Linked DNA regions of Homo sapiens: region 2 is linked to region 1. A link means that fine-mapping ties the variant in region 1 to the plasma level of a protein whose gene starts in the linked region. Region 1 holds a variant in brackets. A gene starts in the other region. All regions are shown on their reverse strands.

Evidence for each region. A credible set is the group of variants that fine-mapping cannot tell apart. PIP is the chance, under the fine-mapping model, that this variant and not a neighbour inherited with it causes the effect. Protein levels are from antibody-based Olink assays in UK Biobank. Linkage for the fine-mapping came from a reference panel and not from the study's own genotypes, which makes the PIPs less certain.
Region 2: TNFSF11 starts here. The variant in region 1 is the best candidate, but not a certain one, in a credible set for the plasma level of the TNFSF11 protein (UK Biobank, PIP 0.59).

Annotation. Positions count from the first base shown.
Region 1 is chr20:40,512,460-40,515,368 of GRCh38, reverse strand. No RefSeq gene overlaps it. Among named protein-coding and RNA genes, the nearest start is that of MAFB, 180 kb to the left of the region's middle. The variant C/T (reference allele first, on the strand shown) is at 1,493.
Region 2 is chr13:42,572,346-42,575,254 of GRCh38, reverse strand. It overlaps TNFSF11 (TNF superfamily member 11), which reads right to left and starts at 1,103. Exons shown (of 5, transcript NM_003701.4): 1 at 733-1,103. The coding sequence starts at 951. RefSeq lists an enhancer at 506-705 and a silencer at 796-1,165.

The DNA of each region.
Region 1 (2,909 bases):
GATGTATCTCTGAGGGGATATCTCTGAGGGGGTGATGTTTGAAATGAGATCTGAGTGACGAGGCGCCAGCCCTGCAAGGACCTGGGGGAGGGCATTCCAGGTGCAGGGAAAAGCAGGTGCAAAGGCCATGAGGCAGGGAAGAGAACTTGGCATGTTCACAAAATAGAAAGAAGGCCTCTGGTTACCAATAACAATGAATAGTCCTTGGCCAGGGCTGCAGATCACCTGAGGTCAGGAGTTCGAGACCAGCCTGGCTAACATGGTGAAACCCCATCTCTATTAAAAATACAAAAAATTAGCCAGGCACGGTGGCAGGCACCTGTAATCCTAGATACTTGGGAGGCTGAGGCAGGAGAATTGCTTGAATCTGGAAGGCAGAGGTTGCGGTGAGCCGAGGTCCCACAAATGCACTCCAGCCTGGGCGACAGAGTGAGACTCCATCTCAAAAAACAAACACAAAAACAAAAAACAAACAAAAAAATGGATAGTTCTCACGACCCAGTAGAACATAAAATTTGAACCGAAGGCTGCCTGCCTTGAACACCCACTGAAAATGGAAGTGGCTTCCCTTGTTAACCCTTACTTCTGGTTAACCCTGGTCCTGGTTAATCCTTATTTCCCTCACTTCTGCCTCTTCCTATGCTGTCTTCATGTCTCCCTTCACTGCTGTGTTCCAAGCATGTTCCACAGCTGAGCCCAAGAAGCCAAAGGCCTCTTTTTAGATACAAGTTCTTACTCAACTTTGAGGCAGAGTATGTTTCCCTAGACAGAGGTTTGTCTGTTTCTGACATGGCATGCCCTGGGGCCCATAGCACCGCTTTGACCCAGGCTCACAGATTGGGCAAGTCCAAACTGGGGTTGCAAACACATCACTCATTTATTCATTTATCAATAGTTATTAGCATCACCATCAATAGAAACAAGTATAACAAATGACAGTTAATGAGGGGAAGTTAGCAAGGAAGATATTTTTTGAGGGCACCTAATTGGGACCTGAGGCTCAGGCAACATTTTTAGAAGGAACTGATGTATAAATGGGAGTCTGAAAGATAAGTAGGAATTGGCTAGTAGAGGGACTCATGAGAAAGAAGAGAACTGTGGATTCTGGAAACTGCCTGTGCAAAGGCCCCAAGGTGGAAGAGAGCATGGGGTATTTGGGGACTTTTATATGGATATAGAGGTGTTTTTAAAGGAGGGTGTATGTGTAAGAATCTGGCTGGGAATCCTCTAGCCTGTAGGGTCCAGATTCTGCAGGGCCTTTTTCACCACGGTTTTTGTGTGCGGATTTTTTCTGCACACTTCAAAGTTCTTTATTAGAGAGTCAGGCCAATCTCAGAGGTAAATTATTGCAGAGAAGGAACAAAGATTGGAGAGATGATTAACCTCGACTTTCTCTTGTGCTTTTCCTGCATATGGAAAGTGATCTCTACAGACACCTCTTCCTTTCTGAACCTTGCTTTCCTCCCTCGGTTTCTGTCCCTGCCTACACATC[C/T]CCATTTTTCCAACATTGCACCCAGCTACCCTCCTGACTATCTTTGGAAAATTCTGCTCCTTCTGCCGTGTGGGGTTTAAGCTCCGGAGCTCAGGCTTGGGGTAGACAGACTCCAGCTGTGGTTAAGAGAATGAATTGGAGGAAGACAACATGGAGGGAGAGAGACCAGTTAGGGGACATTGTGATTATCTGGGATGGCAATCATGGCACAGTGGGTGCAGAGAGTGGCCATGTTTGAGAGATTTTCAAGAGGTCTTTTGGAAGGTGTGTGGCTTGGACCTATGGATGGACCTACAATGGACATAGGCACTGAAAAAAGAAACACAGGAGGCAAGATGGGGAGGCAGAGTGGGGCTGGGGGAAGTCACAGTGTGGAACTTGGAGTCACACAACTTCATAACCTTGAACGAGTCACTTAACCCCTCTGAGCTGCCTTTCCTTCCTCTGTAAAGTGGGGAGACAAGCAATGCCTGTCTCATAGAGTGGTGGTGAGAATTAAATGAGTAGTGGTTAGCACAGCGATTGGCACACGCAAGCTATCACTGTTAAATCCATTCCAGGGGCTGCTTTCCATAAACACGTGGTTACTATAGATCTGAAGTCTTGGAGGAAGACCTGGCTGAAGGCAAAGATGTGAGATTTATTTCCCTGAGTCATTGCTCCCACCCACAGGGTAAATGTTTGCAGTATTAATATTGAAGTGTTTAAGAGAATCAACTCTTCACCGAACAGCTTCAGATACTTTAGAGGAACTTGTTTGCATTCAAACAATTAATATGCCAATTGCAAACCAAGCCACTTCACTCATCAGAGCCACCCAGGGACCAGTTGGTGGTAACATTTCAGTGTTTAGTGTGAGTTACAGTATGTGTTGTGGAACAATAAAACTGTAGTTAGTTTTTTTTTTCGAATGCATTTCACTTTTCCTCTTTCAGATTTTCAGACTGGTGTTCCTTCCCAGTAAGTAGCCTGTATTCATGGAGTGTCTGGAATCACTTTGAATTCACTTGTATTTTGGTTCTAATGGCAGCCACAGGGCTCTAAGTGGCCAGCTGTCCTGAGAAGGGCGTGCTAATTGCATTGAGGGGCAGGTTCATCTGTAATCTGTGAGTCTATTTGAGGTGGCCTGGGGTGGTGGCTGATTCGAATTAAGATAATAAACATATAATTTCTTCCAACCAGCCTCCGGGCTCTACATTTCTCCCATCTGAGGAGTCTAGTTGAACAAGAAAAAGTCCTGTGACTAGCAAAGGAAGAGATGAATGGGTAAGAAGATGGACCAGCTGTAAACTAAATAGTCATACCAGGTATTTGCGCTGTGCACAATACAGCCCCAAAACTTAGTGGCATAGGACAGCAACTTATTAGGCTGGGCGGGTTTTCTGCCGGTTTCCTCTGGGTTCATCATATGGTTCTC
Region 2 (2,909 bases), not on the chromosome of region 1:
CTAGACTGTAGTAACACTGTGCCATCACACTCACCTCGCTTCCTTCCTCCGCCCACATCCCTAGCAGGCACGTGGGGCTGTCCCTCTTCCTTCACCCCCACAGGACAGCGCCACAGCCGCAGAGCCCCCATCCCGAGCCCGCGCCTCTCTGGTCGCGCCGTGTCATTCTGCCCACCCATTGGGCGACCTGGGCACGAGCACCGCGACCTCCCGCTCCGCGCAGCCCTCCAGCACCGTGGCCCCAGCACACCTGCAGAGCAGCCAGGCGCAGGAACCGAAACCCGCCGGGTGGTGGGCGGGAAGGGAAAGGTAGATGCCCAAGTGAAGGCGCTCATCTTTTTTCCTACGTGAACAGAAGTTGATTCTTAACTTCAAGTGAGAAATGACAGGGAGAAAAAGTATGCAATCACTACCAGAAAAGGTGAGAGGCCAGTGTTGTTTCCCAGCGAAGGGACGGGGTGAGATTCAAACCCATCGTCCGGCCAGGGGAGTCCGCCCCCAGAGCACCGAGAAGCTGGGGTGCGTGGGCGGAGAGAGAGCAGGGTGCGCCCGACAGCCCTGCGCCAGGTTGTCCCCAAACTCAACACTTCCTCTCTCCCTTCTGGAGTCACTTTCCCTTCCGGAATATGCAAGCTCTGGGTGGCCCAGCCCTGCCGCCAGACTCAGTTTCCAAGTGCGGGGGAAGGAGATGGGCGCTCTCAGCCGCGATCCCCTGGGAAGGTGGCCACTCACCTGCGCTCTGAAATAGAAGAACAGGGCGACGCTGCAGACAACCTGGCCCAGCCCCAGCCCCAGGAGGGCCACGAACATGGAGCGGGAGGCGGCAGGGGGCTGGTGCGGCGCAGGCGGCGGCGGGGCGTGCAGGGGGCCCTCGTGCGGGGCTCCGGGGCCGCCGCCCATCTCCTCCGAGCCACGCAGGTACTTGGTGTAGTCTCTGCTGGCGCGGCGCATGGCGCTCGGCCCTCTCGCTTCGGAGCTCTCCTCCCTCTCCCGCTCCCTCCCCTTCTTGTCTGCGGCCAACTCCGGAGGCTGCGGCGGAGCCTCGACGTGGGGCGCCGACTTGGAGCCCGGCTTTGGGTCCTGGGGCGCGCGGGCGAGCGGGCAGGGCGCCCGGCAGCCCCAACTCTTATAAACCGCTTGGAGAGCCCTGGCCTCGGGAGCCAATCAGCCCCAGGCGAGGCTGCCTCTTCCACTCCCACCTCTGGCTCCCCTTCCTTCCTTTCGCCCTCCCTCTCTCTCAATCTCTGTCACTGAAGGGCCTCCTTCATGGGGGCCCTCCAAGGAGGAGGCTGGGGGCTACTCCAGTGGTTCCAGACTCCCCTTGCCATCCTCAGCTGTCTTTCTGGAGGTCCAAGAGATGGGTTAAAGAAGACGCAGAGGACACCTTTGCTAAAGGATAAGGATTGCACCTCAGACATTCCTCCTGCATCCATTCTAGTTTGGTAGAGAAGGGACTTCACATCCTGGAGTCTCGGTTTCCTCCTTAGGATTTAGAAAGTTAAATTTGATGATCTCTGAAGACCCTTCCTGTCCAACCTCTCCCCCCAAAGTGCTTCCAAATATAGTTTCTCAAAGTATTTTGGAAGACTTCGAAAATTTCACAATCCCCTTCCCAAATCCCTATTTCTGCATCTTGAAGGTGACATTGAGCGAGGCAGGTCTTGAATGTGGCAGTAGAGAGCCTATAGACACCAACTCTGACTTTATAAAGATGAAAACAGTGCAGAGAAAAGGGTAAAGGGGCGTGTAGCCAGAAGCAAGCATCCGAGGAGGGCTCACCCAACAGTCAGGAAAGAGATGTAACACGAAGCTGATGATACAGTTAAATGTTAGTTTCATTGCTAAAGAAACCTTGCTAGGGCTTTTTAAAAACCTCTATTCAGAACTGTGGCTCTTAGTGAGAAAACAAAAATATTAACATTGCTCACAAATTCTGATACTTCTTCAGAAGGAAGTTGCTGACCAATTTAAACACCCATGAAACTTAGGATGTTTCCACTTTTTTATTAATACAGTTAGCCCACAGTATCCATGGGTTCCACATCTGTGGATGCAATGAACCACAGATCAAAAATATTTGAAAAAAAAAAAAAGGATGGCTGTGTCTGGACTAACATCTGTAGACTTTTTTTCTTGTGATCATTTCCTAAATGATACACAACTAGTTACATAGCATTTACATTCTATTAAGTATTATAAATAATCTAAAGATAATTTCAAGTGTACAAGAGGATGTGTGTAGGTTAAATGCAAATACTATGCCATGATATGTTAAGAAACTTGAACATCCATGGATTTTGGTATTTGCGGGGAGGGGTTTGGTGGTGTCCTGGAACCAGTCTTCCATGGATATCAGGGGACTACTGTGCCTTTTTATTTTGCATCCTCTTTCTGCCTAATTCGCTAATGAGTATTTCTCTAGGCAAGATTTGTGACAAATGACAGGTCTCTGAGTTATTAAAGCATGTGTTCTAAATTGAACACTTAGACCTCAGTAAATGTTGAGGAAGAGTGACCAGGTTGAATTTTTTTTAAAGGCAGCCATACAAAGAAAATGATCTGTTCAAATTCAAAAATGCCTTTAGCATTTATATGTGTATCAATATATAGGTTGGTGGAGAAGGGACAAAAAATTTTCAGACTCAAACATAGAAACAATTGACGTTAATTCTACTCCTTGTAGTCTTTGACCTCTTCCCACTTTTTGTTTGTTAACTTTGGGAAGTAGGTTTATTGTCTCCTCCTCCCCCTCCTCCTCCTCCTCTTCTTCCTCATTCTCTCCCTGCTCCTTGACTCAGGAAATAATTCCATATTTCTTCTTTCTTATAAATATTGATTGGGATCAAAGATTTTTAAAATGTGTTATAACAACTAAACCCACAATGATTTTACTATAGTGTCTTCCATTC